2 separate regions of the Homo sapiens genome follow, and region 1 is linked to region 2. Evidence: fine-mapped expression QTL. A gene starts in region 2. The other region holds a variant in brackets. All regions are shown on one strand. Distances are between the middles of the regions. Region 1 overlaps CLTCL1 (clathrin heavy chain like 1). Region 2 holds the start of CLTCL1 (clathrin heavy chain like 1).

Region 1 (2,865 bases), 110 kb after region 2:
GGTGTGGGAGAGCCTGACTCGAGCTGGGCTCCAGGCCGCAGGAGCGGGACACTGACTGGGAGCTTCCTGGGGGCTGCTTCTACTGGAAGTCCTCTGGGAAGGCAGTGAGACAGTCCCCAAGGCCCACAGAGGAGGAACAGAGCAGGGCCCACTTTAGGCACATGTGGAAGACAAGTCAGCAAGGGTAGGCTGGGCCGGTGGAGGGCACGGCAGGGAGACAGATGAGCGGGCGTCACAGGTCCTCAAAGCGGAGACCCAAAGGCACCTGGAGCTCTCACCTGAGGGTCAGAATCCTGGTGCCTTTGTAGGAACAGTGTGGGTCAGGAGGCAGCGATCGATGAGCAGCATGCCAGCGGGGGAGACTTCTTTCCGGAGCCAGCTCAGCACATCGGGTCCATGCAGATGTGGGCACTGGGCGTCCTCAGGGGTCTCCCAAACGGAACTCAGAGGTGTGTGCTGCAGGCGATGGCAGGCATGCAGAGCTGGGACCGCCACAGGGTATCCCTGGAGAGCACAGGTCACAGTCAGTGGATCATGGCCAACTCCAGGTGGAGTGGCCCTGGGCAAGTGACTACATCTGGGTCTCAGGTTCCTGGTCTCTGAATGGGGTACTAATAGCCCCTGCCATAGAAGGAATCAGGTGATCCAGTGCCTGCTGTGGAGCTAGAAAATAGAGAATGGCCACAGAAAGTGCAGGCTTCTTCAGGACTGGTCAGGTGCAGGTGTTATTTTGTCAATGATATTGTCTTAGACAAATACATTTGCAAGGATGAAAATAGCAGTTAGGGGTTTTTGAGCCACTTGAAAGAAAAACACATTGCTGTTTCTAGAGCAGTAGCCGTACCCCTCCTAACTGCTCCCCTGGTGTCACACGCTCCATGGACCTGAGTGCAGCACCTCTGCAGCAGCCCCACAACCCCCAAACTCCCATCAGTGCCTTCCTCAGAGCAGCCTGTGCACGCCCTCTGCCCTCGGGGCTAGAGTTCCTGTCTCCCAGGGCACCTGCGCCTCCGTGAGCCACCTGTCCCCTCCAGAGCCTCCGGAGGTGGCATCTCCGTTTCACCAGTGGGCAGCAGGGCATAGGGAATGGCCCAGCCATGGGTCCAGGCTTGCTCCACAGCGCAGGAAGTCCTTGGTGGAGTCTAGTGCCACTCCCTGCCCTCCGGCCCAGCTGCTGCAGGCACAAAGCCTCTGCCTGCAGGATGCCCAAGCAAGCATTTGCCTTGGCTGCAGGATGCCATGCAGCATGCTGCAGAGTCGCGGGATGCTGAGCTGGCCCAGAAGTTGCTGCAGTGGTTCCTGGAGGAAGGCAAGAGGGAGTGCTTCGCAGCTTGTCTCTTCACCTGCT[ATGACCTGCTT/T]CGCCCAGACATGGTGCTTGAGCTGGCCTGGAGGCACAACCTCGTGGACTTGGCCATGCCCTACTTCATCCAGGTGATGAGGGAGTACCTGAGCAAGGTAGGTGCCGGGCCGGCTGCAGCTCCCCGGCCCCTGTGTGGCATGACCCAACCCTGGCAGTGACTCTGGCCGCAGGTCTTAAGGGTGGGCCCCTTTGAGGCCAACCCAGATTCCCCAGCCAGCCCTGGCTGCCTTCAGGAGTGGCTGCTTTCCTTCATGCTGAAGTGGTTTTCTGCCCAACGTTAAGCCCCTCCAGAAAATCATCATGGGGAGTGCCCACTGGCAGCAGCCCTCCTGTAGACTCTGGCTGGGCAGCTGTCCCAATGTGCACACTGCTAGGAGCACAACAGGCGTGCTCATCCCCAGCCCTGGACTTCAACAAGGTGACAGTGAGGTGGCTGGCAATCCCAGCTCCCTGAGGAGCTCCCAGTGGCGTCTGGGGGTGCAGCTGTTAGCATACGGTTGGTGGTAGCTGCCTTTTGCTGAACACATAGTAGGAGTATTCACAGATCCACTGAATCCTTCTAACAGCTATAGGGAGGATGACTCTCTGCCTCATCGAAGTGACAGTACTTGATTGTAAAACTCTCCCTGGGTGTTGAAGTCCTAGGAGTCCCTGCTGGGATCTAGCTTTAGCCACTGTCCAGAGACCTGTGTCAGCAGTGTCATCTGGTACAGTTTGTTGTTTCTAACACTGGAAAAGCTACTTCCAGTAGCATCTACTTGCCTATCTAACCTCCTTCAAGCCAGATGGAGAGCCTCGGAAGGCACTCATGCTGAAGCATCACTCAGTGGAGCGAGGGAAGGGAGGGGCCTCCCAGGTGAGTGGGAGGTAGGAAGGAAACAGGAAGGCGGGCTCATGCTGCCAGCTTTAGCCTGGAGGGCTGCCTGCCGCCTGCAGAGCCTCCAGGGGGCTGCCCAGCCCCTGATAAAGGCCATCCCAGAGTCCATTCAAGGCCGTTGCCCTCCTGTAGGACAGTGTGACCCCATCCCATCTGCATAGCATGCCTGAGTGAGACTCCCTGATGACTCTCAAGGGTTGGGGAGGAAGGGACAGCCCTGGCTACGTGGCCTGAGATTCGTGGGCTGCCAGGGGACATGGACTGGTTGGATTGACAAGGGCCCTGGTTCCCCCACCACAGTGGATGGCAACTCCCTACAGGCGGCACGTGTGGTATGTGGTTTGTGGTATGCAGTGTGTGGTGTGCGGTGTCTGGTGCGTGCCTGTGGAAGCTGCTGTCACCATGATGAGCAGGTTTTCCCATCCCTCGGGTGTCTTTCCTGAAAGTAGTCTGTGTTCTGAGAACCAGCACAAGGAAAGAAAGTGCTTGAATCTCTTCCTGGCAGTAGAGGCCCGTGGGTTAGTGTCAGAGGAACTCAGGCTCACCAGGCCCTAGGGAGTGTCATTGCTGTGGGGGTCAAAGTGCTTGTGGGGATCCCCCAGGACTTTGAGGCGCACATTCCCTTTCT
Region 2 (2,906 bases):
CGCAAATAATTGCACCATCCTTGTCTTATTCAAGGTGGGCCGTTCATTTCTTAAAATTACCAGTGAGCAACATGGGAAGCAGCAGAGACGGCTATCGATTACCCCGTAGGGAGTGCCTGTGCTGAATGCCAAGGGCTTCCCTTTCCTGACAGACATCTTTTATGCAGCTGAATCATCTGTATGCAAAACATCAGCCAACGGTGCCTCGGAAAAACAACTGGCTGCTGGGCAAACCAGGTGTGGGCTCCAGCTTCCACCTGCTACTACTGTCGTGCAGCCACGGGCACTCTGGGTGATCCTCACTGGCCTGGGGCTGGTCATCTGCTGCTAGATGACCTTCGCTGACTCTCTACATTGATATTCCGACACAGTGTTCTCTAGAAACCGCATGAGCCAGGAAAGGTGTTTCCTAAAGGAGCAGGGGCCGAGCCTCACGCCGAAACACGTCTGTAACACGTACAGTCACGCGTCCCATGCATCCATGCATTCTGAGACATGCGTCTCGGTTGTGGGATCATCACAAGGTAACTTACACAAACTCAGATGGCACAGCCACTACACAACTAGGCAGCTGATGCGGTCCGCTGCTGCTAGGCCGCAAACCCGCACCGCGTGTGAGGTGCGTTATTCCCCTGGCACGGTAATGACATACCTGTACGTGTATCTCCAAATACAGGAGAGGAAATGTCCTTAGCTAAGCCCTCACCAGAGGACAGGAAGTTTCCAGCTCCGTTATCATGTTATGGGACCACCGTCATATACACGGTCCTCCTCAGACCAAAAGGTCGTTCGTTATACGGCACATGTGGTTCTTCCAAGACCCTTTTCCATCTTTCTGTCACATCCGTGCCTGAGTAAAAAGTGGCCCTGAACTCAACCGTCCAGAGTTGGCGGCAGAACTAGCACCACTGGCCCGCTCCACATGTGGAAGGCGCTGGGCAAGGGCCGCCGCAGACCCCATCAGGATTAATCCCCCGAAAACCTTTCACTCGGGTAGCTGGCACACACCGCGTCAGGGCAGAGGGCGCGCGGGACTACTTTCCGCGGACCCTCGGAGCGGGCGGAGGGATCCGCGCAGGCGGGACGGGGCAGAGGCGGGGGCAGGGGCGGGGGCAGGGGCGGGGGCAGGGGCGGGGCAGAGGCGGGGCAGGGGCGGGGCAGGGGCGGGGGAAGGGGCGGGGAAAGGGGGTGCGGGCCGGGGCGCGGTCAGGGAGGAGGGCGGGGGCCAGGACCGGGAGCTCGGGGCACTGCGCCTGCGCCGTCGCCACCGGTCAGCCCGCGCGAGGGGTCGGCGTTCATTCCTGCCGCTGCCGCCGCCGCCGCCGAGGTCCCGCACCAGCCATGGCGCAGATCCTCCCTGTTCGCTTTCAGGAGCACTTCCAGGTGAGGCCCGGCGGGCTGGGGGGCTGCCCTGTCAGCCGCGCCTCCGCCGGGCCGGACTGCCAGGCTTGACCCCGCGCCCCCAGCCCCGCTGAGCCGCTGCCCAGCTGGCCGCGCCGATTTCCGACCTCCCACCTGGGCTGGGGCTGCGGCGTCCCGGGCGCGGCGGCCGCTCCTGAGGACCCGCTTGGGTGCCGTCGCCGAAGCCCGTTACCGGCGGGGCCGGCTGGGGAATGGTGGGGGTGGAAGCCAACGCCCCCTGGGACGCCCCGCTCAGTGCCCGCGAGGAGGCACACAAATTCCCGCTGCAGGCAGGGCAACCCAAGGGCCGCGCGGATCCCACAGCTCCACGCCCCTCCTTGGCGTCCTGCGGTCCTTATTCGCCCCTGAGTTTGCCTCTGTGATCGGTTTTCGTCCCCAGGGCGGCTTCGCCTGGGAGGACCGTGAACATGCGTGACCCAAGAGAAAAATTTCTCAGGGCCAAGCCTAAATAGGGCTTTTCAATGCAGTAACACCCCCAAAGCCTGCCTTTTTAATAAGGTCCCAGTTTGTTCTCCATTTGTTTGTGTTCAGAAACATAAGGACTGGCCCCCTGCTTTGAGCAAAGGCTCAGGTCGGGCGTCGTGCGGGCCGCTCGCGGGTCTGCCCGGGAGCGGTGCTGGTCCCCACGTTTACCCTGGGAGGTGCGGCAGAGGAGGGATAGCCAGCGGCTCCTCCCTGAGTGCTCTGTGTTAAATCATCACACTACCATTCGTTGCGATTCGCTTACTCTTTTCTAGATGAGGAAACCGAGTCTCAAAAGTGTTAAAGAACTCATCTTCATTCAATAAGAACAGGATTCAGACTCAAGTCTTTTTGACCACAAAGTAGTACATCGAGGAACGTGCTTGCTTGAAAGTTCCTATTTTCACAGTGCAGAGCACTGTTAGCCCTAGATGCAGACGGGAAAAGCCTTGGGAACTGTGTAGTGCAGTCCAGTCCCCTCATTCTGCAGACTGGAAACTTGATATCCAGGGGATCCTGCCAGGGTCACTTGGTTAGTGACACAGTGGAAGTTGTATGGAGGTGGGAGTGCCCTGACATCTGTCCGGGCTTCATTCTGCCACTAAGCTAAGCCAGCACCAGTCATGTTGAGGTAGCAAAATACTGCTGCTGCTCATAATAATGATGATGATGTAGTTATCATTTACTGAGCCGTTTCTCTTGCCACTCACTAGACTACTGTATTTTATAAATCTGGTTTAATTTAATCCTCATGATAACTGAGGCAGATAGTGATATCCTGTTTTCTACCATGGGTCACTGAGGTTAATATTCTAATTCCTTCAGCAAAAGTTACATGGCTAGTAAGTGACAAAGCTTGAGTTCTAACCCAGGTCTGATTCCAATGCCTGTGCTTAACCACTATCTAAATATGTTCTTTTCAAAGGGCAAGAAAGCAACAAGATATTTTAGGTGTCCATCAGAGTTTCTAATGTCCATCAGGATTTGTAATGTCCATCAGAGTTGATATGTTCCATTATCTG

Evidence for each region. PIP is the estimated chance that this variant, and not a neighbour inherited with it, causes the effect.
Region 1: its variant is fine-mapped to the expression of CLTCL1 in whole blood (TOPMed, PIP 0.92).

What each region holds. Positions count from the first base shown.
Region 1 is chr22:19,181,980-19,184,844 of GRCh38, reverse strand. It overlaps CLTCL1 (clathrin heavy chain like 1), which reads left to right. Exons shown (of 33, transcript NM_007098.4): 30 at 1,234-1,455. Among named protein-coding and RNA genes, the nearest start is that of SLC25A1, 4.7 kb to the right of the region's middle. The variant ATGACCTGCTT/T (reference allele first, on the strand shown) is at 1,349.
Region 2 is chr22:19,290,077-19,292,982 of GRCh38, reverse strand. It overlaps CLTCL1 (clathrin heavy chain like 1), which reads left to right and starts at 1,264. Exons shown (of 33, transcript NM_007098.4): 1 at 1,264-1,383. The coding sequence starts at 1,342. LOC105372859 (a long non-coding RNA gene) reads right to left here and starts at 1,036. Exons shown (of 6, transcript XR_938002.3): 1 at 653-1,036. RefSeq lists silencers at 1,146-1,385, 1,267-1,451 and an enhancer at 1,562-2,075.